2 separate regions of the Homo sapiens genome follow, and region 1 is linked to region 2. The links come from fine-mapping of genetic effects on gene expression. A gene starts in region 2. The other region holds a variant in brackets. All regions are shown on one strand. Distances are from middle to middle. Region 1 has its middle 27 kb from the start of TBC1D23. Region 2 holds the start of TBC1D23 (TBC1 domain family member 23).

What was found. PIP is the estimated chance that this variant, and not a neighbour inherited with it, causes the effect. A credible set is the group of variants that fine-mapping cannot tell apart.
Region 1: its variant is the best candidate, but not a certain one, in a credible set for the expression of TBC1D23 in whole blood (INTERVAL, PIP 0.67).

Annotation. Positions count from the first base shown.
Region 1 is chr3:100,231,488-100,236,873 of GRCh38, forward strand. No RefSeq gene overlaps it. Among named protein-coding and RNA genes, the nearest start is that of TBC1D23, 27 kb to the right of the region's middle. The variant T/C (reference allele first, on the strand shown) is at 3,088.
Region 2 is chr3:100,258,070-100,263,455 of GRCh38, forward strand. It overlaps TBC1D23 (TBC1 domain family member 23), which reads left to right and starts at 2,923. Exons shown (of 19, transcript NM_001199198.3): 1 at 2,923-3,002. The coding sequence starts at 2,950. RefSeq lists enhancers at 2,327-2,995, 2,731-3,220, 2,996-3,664, 5,002-5,386.

The sequences.
Region 1 (5,386 bases), 27 kb before region 2:
TGGGAGGCAGAGGTTGCAGTGAGCAGAGATCACGCCACTGCACTCGAGACTAGGCAACACAGTGGGACTCTGTCTCAAAAAAAAAAAATATGACAGCAACCCCAACCTTCAGCAACCACCACCCTGATCAGTCTTCAGCCACCGACATGGAGGCAAGACCCTCCACCAGCAAAAAGAGTATGACTTGCTGAAGGTTGAGATGATTGTTAGCATTTTTTTGCAATCAAGTATTTTTTAGTTAAGGTATATACATTTTTTAGACATTGTGCTATTGCATACTTAATAGATTACAGTATAGCACAAAAATAACTTTTATATGCAATGGGAAACCAAAAAAGGTGTGTGACTCATTTTATTGTAATATTTGCTTTATTACAGTGGTCTGGAACCAAATTTGTACTATTTCCAAGGTGTGCTTGTACTGAAATATATATGGGTGAAGTGATGATGTTTAGAATTTGCTTTACAAAATTCCAGCAGGCCGGGCACCGTGGCTCATGCCTGTTATACCACCACTTTGGGAGGCTGAGGAGGGTGGATTACTTGAGGTCAGGAGTTTGAGACCAGCCTGACCAACACAGTGAAACCCTGTCTCTGCTAAAAGTACAAAAATTAGCCAGACGTGGTGGCAGGCACCTGTAATCCCAGCTGATTGAGAGGCTGAGGCAGGAGAATCACTTAAACCCAGGAAGCAGAGGTTGCAGTGAGCCGAGATTGCGCCACTGCACTTCAGCCTGGGCAACAGAGCAAGACTCCGTCTCAAAAAAATAAATAAATAAAAATTCCAGCAAAAACAAAGAAATAAAGAAATGCTGATAGGGTAATTGATTAAATAAAATTGGTAAAATGTTGGGACTTTTTGAAGGTGGACTATTGTTACCCGGAGGTTCATTATACTGTTTTCCCCCCATTTTTGTATGTGTTTTAAATTTTCTATTAAAAAAAGTAGGAGGGAAAAGTTGGAGGAGAAGAGGGTGCCGGCAATGCTAGAGTCACTCAGTATTTCCCTTTGAAAAGAACAGTTTCACAAAAAGTAACTCAAAATGGATCGTAGACCTAAATGTAAAATGGAAAACTATAAAACTCACATAAGATAACAGAGGAAAAAATCTAAGTGATCTTGGGTTTAGTGGTGATAAGTTTTTAGACACAACATCAGATCATGATCCATGAAAAAAAATTGATAGTTGGACTTCATTACAATTTAAAACTGCTGTCCAGGCATAGTGGCTCATGCGGCTGAAGCGGGAGGATTATTTTAGCTCAGGAGTTTGAGACCAGCCTGGGCAACATGGTGAAATGCCATCTCAAAAAAAAAAAAAAAAAAAAAAAAAGGATGCTCAACATCATATGTCATTAGGGAATTTTAAATTAAAATAACAATGAGATGTGACTACATAACTCTTAGAATGGCTAAACAAAAACACTATGCGACCAGATGCTGGAGAGCATGCAGAGCAACAGGAACTCTCATTCATTGTTGGTCAGAATGCAAAATGTTACAACCCCTTTGGAAGACAGTTTGGCAGTTTCCTACAAAGCTAATCTTACCATACTACCCAGCAATTGTGCTCCTTGGTTGCCTAAATGAGTTGAAAACTTATGTCCACACAAAAACCTACACATGAATGTGTATAGCTGCTTTAGTTATAATTGCCAACACTTGGAAACACCAAGATGTCCTTCAATAGGTGAACTGATAAACTGTGGCACATTCATACAAAGGAATATTATTCATTCCATTTTTTCCAATTCAGTAATAAAAAGAAACACCCTATCAAGCCATGAAAAGACACAAAATAAGCTTAAATGCATATTGCTAAATGAAAGAAGCCAATCTGAATAGGCTGCATCCTGTATAACTCCAACTATGTGACATTCTGGAAAAGACAAAACTATGGAGACAGTAAAAAGATTAGTGATTGCCAGGGCTTTGGGGGAGGGAAGAAAGATGAATAGGTACAGCATAGGGGACTCTTTAAGCAGTCTAGGAACCCCCTGGATTTTCCATTCAATTTTTCTATAAATCTAAAACTTCTCTAAAAAATAAAGTATATTAATTTAAAAAGAAAAAAAAGCTGCTGGTAATGCCTGTCTGCATGAAGAAAGGGGCCAGGGACAGATTTGCCTCCTTTCAAAGCTGTACATTACGTGTATGGCTATTAAATGGGAATACATTAAAGGGTTTACAGCACAATGAAGTTTCTCAAAATTAGGTCCTAGAACTACGTCTATCAGAAGCAACTGAGTTGCTTGTTAAATGCAGATTCCCAGGCCCTGGGCCAGAGCTACCAAATCAAAGTCTCTAAGAACAAGGCCTGGAAATCTGCCTTTAGAATACCCCAGTGATTCCTATGCACCCATTAGTATACACTCTACCAATCTGCTCAACTGTTAGTCTTTTATTTTTGCACATATGGAGGAATAAAGAGAAAATGTCCATTAAATTCTTCTCAAATATATGTAATAAGACTATGAATAGAAGGGCTGAAGACGGAAAGGGTAGGATGGACACACCACAGGCTGTTGAACAACTGGCTTGGAGAAGCTTCTGAGCCTGAGTGGAGAAGGACAAGAACTAGAGGTGAGCTATTCACTCTCCACACCATGTGACAGCTAGGTTCATTTGAAACAGCAATTAAGCAATACAGAGGACCAAACAACATTGACTAAGTTGGAAAATAAAGACATATGAAAGAAAGTCTTTCAGAAAACAAGTGCAAGGTGTTAGAAGTCATCTAGATTGAAGACAGAGAAAAAGTGACAAGAAATATTTCAACTGATTCTTAGGAAGGCTGCTCTGCAGAAGCAAAACAAAATAAACAAAACCAAAAAAGTAAGGAATGCCAAAAAAAAAAAAAAAAAAAAAGAGAGGGAAGATAAAAAGGAAACAAGGGGAAAAAACTGAAGGAGACACCCTGAAAAGGCAAAAGTTGAGCCTGATGGAAATAAAGTATCAGAAATGACCAAGGCCAGGTGTGGTGGCTCACCCTTATAATCCCAGCACTTTGGGAGCCTGAGGTGGGAGGATTGCTTGAGCCCAGGAGTCCAAAGCCGCGGTGAGCTATGGTCAATCACACCACTGCA[T/C]TGCAGTCTGGGTGACACAGTGACACCCTGTCTCAAACAAACAAACAGAAAAGAAGTGAACCCAAGTAGAAGATAGCTCATGAGCTTTGAGTATAGGAATCATCAGTGATTTTCAGAAAGAACTGTGAAAACAGGCCAAAAATTTTTTTTTCTAAAAACTAAAACAAACACCCAAAGCAAAGAAACAAGAATATAAAAGACAAGCATTTTCCATCATAGATACTACATTCATATCTTTTGCAGATTATGGTTTTCTTTCCAGTTAAATAACTATAATTGTAACCTGAGACTGAAGTAACAAAATAAAATGAAACTGCAGAGGGAGGGAGAATGAAATATTTTTCTCCTCATTGTGCTATATCCACTTGTATAACGAAGTCCTTTTATGTTTATACAATGCTTTATTATTGCTATTTTAGTACTTATAGCCAGATATGTACTATCTCTTTCACTAGCCTGTGAACTATTTAAAGGCAGACTGGCTCTTATTTACCTCTGAGTTCTCTTTCTTGGGCACATAAAAGGTATTTTGTGAATATGTTTTGTTAATTAATTAATTAATTAAAACAGGACCTCAGAGTCACACTCTCTGATGGAAGTGGGGTTCTATAAATGAGGGCAACAGAGCAAAATCCCATCAACTTAAAGCAAGTTGAAGGGGAGACTGAGGCAGTAAGGAAGATTAGGGTCAGCAGCTGCAGAGAGTGAGGAGGAAGATGACAACTGGTCATTAGAGTTCCCAGCATTTCATCATTTTTGTCTGATAGCAGAACAGATCCAGAACTGTGCTTGGTCCGCTAATAACCATAGCCATTTTTAGTATAGAGTTTTCCCTTCCTCTCTTCTATCCAACATTTATCTTATTTGCACCCCTCCCCACCAAAACAAACAAACAAACAAACAAACAAACAAACCATCTAGGGTAGAACTACTTAAAAGATTCCATAAAGTCAGGTGTAGAGAAGTTAGGCAGTAGACATAAAAAGAAATCAGATGAATTATGTTCTAAGTGTTTAGGTAACTACATGCATAGGAAATGAGATTTGCATTTCAAATGAGTATACGTGCTGCTTGCTAAATTTTCCTGGCCTGTGTTATAGCTTCTCCAGGTTCTATGAATTAGAATTTTGTTTCTGTTGTCTACAGAACTAAAGGGCATAATTAATATTTCTGCAAAACACTTAAGTAACATTAGAAAATTTTAATTTGACCTGTTTATTAGGCTTACTTTTACTTAGACTAACAAAGGCATAGTTTAATTAAGGCCACCCCAGAGGGTAACAGCAATCTGAAGGAAAGCTGTAAGTAGTGAAGTGAGATTCACAGTGTTACCTTCTAGTCATCTTAAGTTACTTTGAAAAAGACAAATACATTAGTAAAATAAAATTGGAAAATACTGTGCATTTGAAGATTTATGGTTTACCAAATTATTTTATGTATATTAAATCTCAACAGAGAAAATACCAAGTGTTGGCAAAGTACATAGCAACCAGATATCTCATACATTACTTGTGGGTGTATTAACTGGACCAACTATTTTGAATAATTGTTTGGTGATATCTACTAAAGCCAAATATATGTACAAGCCATGATTATGCAATCCCACTTATAGGTATATATCCAATAAAAAGGCATATATTTATTTTCCGATTCATAAAGCCAGAAGAGGAAACTATTCAAATGCCTATCAACAGAGAAGCTGAAAAATCAATTATTGTATTGTCATAAAATTGAATACTGTACAGCAAGGAAAAGGAACAATCTATAACTGCACAGAACAATACGGATTAATCTCACAAACATAATGTTGAGCAAAAGAAGTCAGGCATAAAAGAGTACATACTGTGTGCGTCCATTATATAAAGTTCAAACACCAGCAAAATCTATAGTATCAGAGACTAGGATAGAGAATATGCTTTTGGCAGGGGATTAGTGATTTGAAGGGGTATGAGGGAGATGTCTGGGGTACGGTAACATTCTCTTTCTTGTCCTGTGCGTTCATTACATGGGCATGTTCAATTTTTGAAAATTCATCAAGCTGGTCACTTCTGATGTATATACTTTTCTCTAAAGTATAGGCCAAAGATATCTTGTTTTAGTCTCAGTTGCTATACAAACCCTAGGAGGTTGTCAAGAAAGCTATTATGATATCTCCATTTTATACAAGAAAACAATTAGGTAAAGACAAATGACTTTTTCAGAGTACTTATTTTTCACATTGTTGCCCAGCTCTAAAACAGATCTTTATCCACTTGAGATCAAGAAATGTTGTGCTTTGTATTAATTGTACATTTCTTCC
Region 2 (5,386 bases):
GCAGCAGTAGATTAAAACATCTTACTAGGTCTTTGTCTTTATCTAAGAATGCACGAAAGTCAAGAAAAGGCTGCACGAATATGGAATAAATGATCAAGAGCTATGTTATTTCTCCATCTCTTTTTAACAAATGCTAAAATAATATTACAATGAAAACTGAATTAAATTCTACTCACATAACAACTATGACTATGCAGATGAGTTCATAATCCTTACCTGTCCCTGAACCCAACCAGCCATTTCTATATAGGTGAATAGCTTAATCCATTACAAAAGTACTACAAAAAATTCCCTAGTTCATTTTACAAATATTTATGGAGATTCTACTATGTGTCATAGGCATGGTACAAATTAAGTACATGTAATACAGTATAAATTACATAATTATATGGCTCAGAACACCAAATAATAAATGAAAAATCTTTTTATGTTCTCTATAATTTAATTTAAAACTAAGACATTTTAATTTTCTTGTTATAAGAAATACGCTTTGATTTTATCCAAGGATAATATGAAATAATACACCTTCCCATTTGGATGTGGGAACTACAATTAGATGCACAAATGCAAGCAGGGGACGCACTCCAAGATTTCATAATGAAATCTTCTCTAGTTCTTGAAAAGCATTTTTGTTTTGTTTTAAGCAGAGGTCCATTATTAGAATTTAACAAATTCTACTTGAGGGAGTGAGGCCCTGTCTCAGAAAAATAAAAATAAAATAATAATAAAGAAAAATGGTTTGGCCAACATGGCAAAACCCCGTCTCTACTAAAAATACAAAAATCAGCCGGCCGTGGTGGCACACGCCTGTGGTCCTGGCTACTTGGGAGGCTGAGACGGGAGAATCACTTGAACTTAGGAAGCAGAGGTTGCAGTGAACTGAGATCATGCCACTGTACTCCAGCCTGGGTGAGAGTGAGATTCTGTCTCAAAAAAAAAAAAAAAAAAAAAAAATCCGCTAGAAGACACTATCGCTAAACAATTTTGGTTGAAATCTTGTCCCCAATGGGTTATACATCACTAAGATATTGACCCTATCTAGAACTGGCTCCCTAATTTGTGAGGCCTAGTGCAAAATTAAAACCAGTGGCTCCTTGTTCCCAAATTATTAAGAATTTCAAGATGGCAACACCAGAGCATGAAATCAAGCACAGAGTTCTTCTAAGCATGTGGTCTCATGCTATTGCATAGACTACATGCCCATGAAGCTGGCTCTGGCTCCATTAAAGAACATAGAAGTCAGAACTTTCCACTTTATTTTGACAGAATAAAGAACTGTTTAAAAATGTCAAGTGACATATTTTTAATGGGAAAATATTTTACCAGAGACTATAAAGCAGTTGCTGATTTAATTATACTCAAAATGAATCATAATTGAGGACTAGAATCTTCTTAACCAGTGAGCAACTGCTTCTCATGTCAATGACTGAATAGGTTTTAAAACCATTTTCTGAAAAGTTTCTGAAAATCTACTGGCAACAATTGAAGGGACCCAGGGGAGGTCCTGAATATTAGAATGGTAATGTGACCTAGATTCACGTCTTTTATTCTTTTTGATAGAGGGCATCTACAGTCTCATTCTATGTTAAAAGAAATGTTCCCTAACAGAGAACTGAACATTACAGAGATCCGGGCCTTGGAAGTGGGTGCAGTACCATGCAGATCTGTATTATTTCCCTTTAGGGAAGAGAGTGAACATGTTTTTGGTTGTAAATGAGATAGCTGTACTGTTTTGTATCTATTTAAAACAAATAGTTTTTGAAACTATGAAACATTTTAGATACCTAAGTATAGACTCTATAAAGAACACTGGCCACCTATGTGGCCACCTTGGGGCCCTTAATAAATATTTAAAAATTCATGGAAACTCCTCCCTTTCCCTGAATGTAACTGCCATTCCGAGTTTTCTATATATCATTCTCCTGCATTTTAAACTCATATGGATCTATTTTAAATATATTGTCTTTTAAACACCAACTATAAATGATACCATACTTTACCTATCCGTCTGCAATCTGTTTTGCTCATTTAACAGCGTATTTTTCAGATGTATCCATATTGTTACATGCAGTTCTACTTCATCACTGTTGTTTTCAGGGCTTGCAAAAGCGTTTCTTTAGGTCCATCCTCCTGAGCGTGTGCTCACCCCAAGGCCCCGGCGGTGGCCAAGTGTCCGCCCATGCGGTGTAAAGGGGAAGTGGAACGCGTAGAGAAGGATTTTGGCAGCTCTGCTTGCCTGGAATTCCAGTCCTAGAATTCTAAATTCGGACTTGATCTTCCAGACTGTTAGGAAGATATATTTAAGGTAGGAGGCTAGAACGTATCTCCTTTAGTATATAGCTTCATTTACAACTTTTAAATATTCAGTCAAAAAGTATGTGGGCCTTCATTTACACTTTTGACGGGGCCTCACAAATAGGGGTGGTCTGCCCCTTTCCTTACGTCCCACTCTTTCTTCAAATTAAATTGCTACAGCAGGAAATTACTGAACTGTGGCTCTTCTCCTACGTCCGCCTTCCCTATGTCAATTCCCATTTCCCTTGCTTTCTCCAATAGTTAGGACTGTAAATTCTAACTTTGTTAATTTCGACGCCAAGCTGGAATGAAGACGCTAAGTGGACGCTAAAAAGACACGCTGTTTGTCACACAAGGCCTCCAACTGGGACGGCGTCCACCGCGCCCCGCCCCGCCCGCGGCACCGTGGCATCTTGGGACATGTAGTCTTTGGAGGGGCAGCTGCCTCCACCAAGTCTCCTCCCCCAAGACGCTGCCTTTCGGCCTCGGGACGCCGTGACGTTGCGTTCCTCCAGTCCCTTGCCACCTCCCTCTTTCTTCCCCTCTGGGGAAGCTCAGTGCTGGACTTCCGAAGACCTTTTACGACATTGAGTCTCGGAGTTGGTCTCAGCGCCGGATCCACTTTTCGGCAAAGTGACGTGGACGTCAACAGCAATGGCGGAAGGAGAAGATGTGCCGCCGCTGCCAACGTCGAGCGGCGACGGCTGGTGAGTGAAAGCCGGGGCTAATTTCCAATGCCCCTTTATTCTTCCTTCTCACCATCTTGCCGGTCCCCGAGGAGCCGTCTGGCGTCGGCATGGAACGGAGAGGCCGGTCCTAGGCGAAGTCCGGTGCCCTGCCCTACCCCTCTGCCAGCTGGGTGCCCCCTGCCTGCCTGGTTCTGCCCAAGGGACTGGGGCGGGACTCCCAAGGAGAGGGGTGTCATCCAGGTGCTGGGCCTCAGAACGGTCCTCCTGTGTCGTCTGTCAGTCTCCAAAGTGTGCTGGAGTGGGTGGCTTCAGGGCTGGGTTTGGCCGGAGTCCTGGCTGTGGGAGTTGGAGTAGGCTGAAGAAGGAAGTTTGTTGGATGCAGATCTGAGTCACTAAAATACAATGTGAAGAAAAGACGTTTTGAAATGACCACTGCGACCTTCGCCTGAGGGTTCAGAGGTTGACCCGAGGAGAATCCCTCCCACTTAGTTGGTATACTTTTTTTTATTCTGGCTGTTATCTCGTTTTGCATTCCAACAGTTTTCATCGTTCGTCTCCTTCACGCAAGTCATCTTTTCCCCTACTACCACATTTCTCACAGCTCGATTTCTGAGCTTTGGATGCAGTGTGGGACTTTGCTCTTACTGCACCCAAGCTGTTGCATGCTTACCTGATTTATACTCGGGATTGTGGGGGAAGACCGCCAATAATTTTTTGGTAAACTGCTCACCCAGTGTTAATCTTTGGGAAAGGCTTCTACTTTTGAAATAGTTGATCTCACGATACACTGTTAGGTTGTACAACATCATTTTTTAAAAAGGGACCTTTAGAGGCTTGTCTAAATTTTACAGTTGATCTAAGTGTATTGACCACATGTATTAGTTTTGGATTTGCTTGTTCGTTATATTGTATGTGTACAGCTCATGGGCACTTTAAAAATAATACAGGACATTGATAGACATCGACTTTAATCCCAGAGGAAAAAAATGGAAATCGTTGAAAGGGATAGATAATTAGTAATTAAGAAATTCAGCTCTCCATTAGCAGACATCAAACATTACCGTAGCGCTGGGCTCTCCAAGGTGTCAGAGGAAAACTTCATGGTGATCTAGATATAGTTTTTTTTTCTTCAACTTGCTTATGTTGGAGTTGGGAAGGTGTAACAAGGTAAAATTAATCTTATTCTTTGTGAGTGTGATTCAAAGTGTTACGAGAGGTTGGCGGTGGGGGCTGGGGCAGTTGGAGTCACTGGGGGAAAGCTTCATGAAAGCAGCAGTGTTTCAACTAGGCTTTGAAGAATAAGTAGGATTTAAGCCCCAGGGCTGTCTAATAGAAGCCACATATTGTAATTTAAAATTATGTAGTAGCAGCATTTAAAACTGAAAAGAAGGCTGGGCGCGGTGGCTCACGCCTGTAATCCCAGCACTTTGGGAGGCCGAGGCGGGCGGATCACTTGAAGTCAGGAGTTCCAGACCAGCCTGACCAACATGGTGAAACCCCGTCTCTACTAAGAATATAAAAATTAGCCGGGCGTGGTGGCGCGTGCCTGTAATCTCAGCTGCTTGGGAGGCTGAGGCAGGAGAATCGCTTGAACCCGGGAGGCAGAGGTTGCAGTGAGCCGAGATCGAGCCACTACTGTCCAGCCCGGCGGCAGTGTGAGGCTCGGTCTCAAAAAAAAAAAAAAAAAAAAAACACTAAAAAGAAACAGGTGAAATCAGTTTTAATAATCTATTTAACATATTTCAACATGTAATCATTGTTTAAAAAATTAGATAATTGTACATCTTTTTTGTGCCAAGTCTTCAAAATCCAATGTGCATTTTACAGCTACCTTATATTTCAATTTGGTCTAGCCACATTTCAGATATTAAATATCCACACATGGCTTGGAGCTAACATATTAGTGCAGAATCAGATTAAGAGATGGGAAAGGCCTCTGAATGGAGTAACTTTCATGCGCGTCCGTGTGAAGAGACCACCAAACAGACTTTGTGTGAGCAATAAAGCTTTTAATCACCTGGGTGCAGGCGGGCTGAGTCCGAAAAGAGAGTCAGCGAAGGGAGATAAGGGCGGGGCCGTTTTATAGGATTTGGGTAGATAAAGGAAAATTACAGTCGAAGGGGAGTTGTTCTCTGGCGGGCAGAGTGGGTGTCCCAAGGTGCTCAGTGGGGGAGCTTTTTGAGCCAGGATGAGCCAGGAAAAGGACTTTCACAAGGTAATGTCATCAGTTAAGGCAAGGACCGGCCATTTACACTTCTTTTCTGGTAGAATGTCATCAGTTAAGGCGGGGCAGGGCATATTCACTTCTTTTGTGATTCTTCAGTTACTTCAGGCCATCTGGGCGTATACGTGCAAGTCACAGGGGATGCGATGGCTTGGCTTGGGCTCAGAGGCCTGACAGT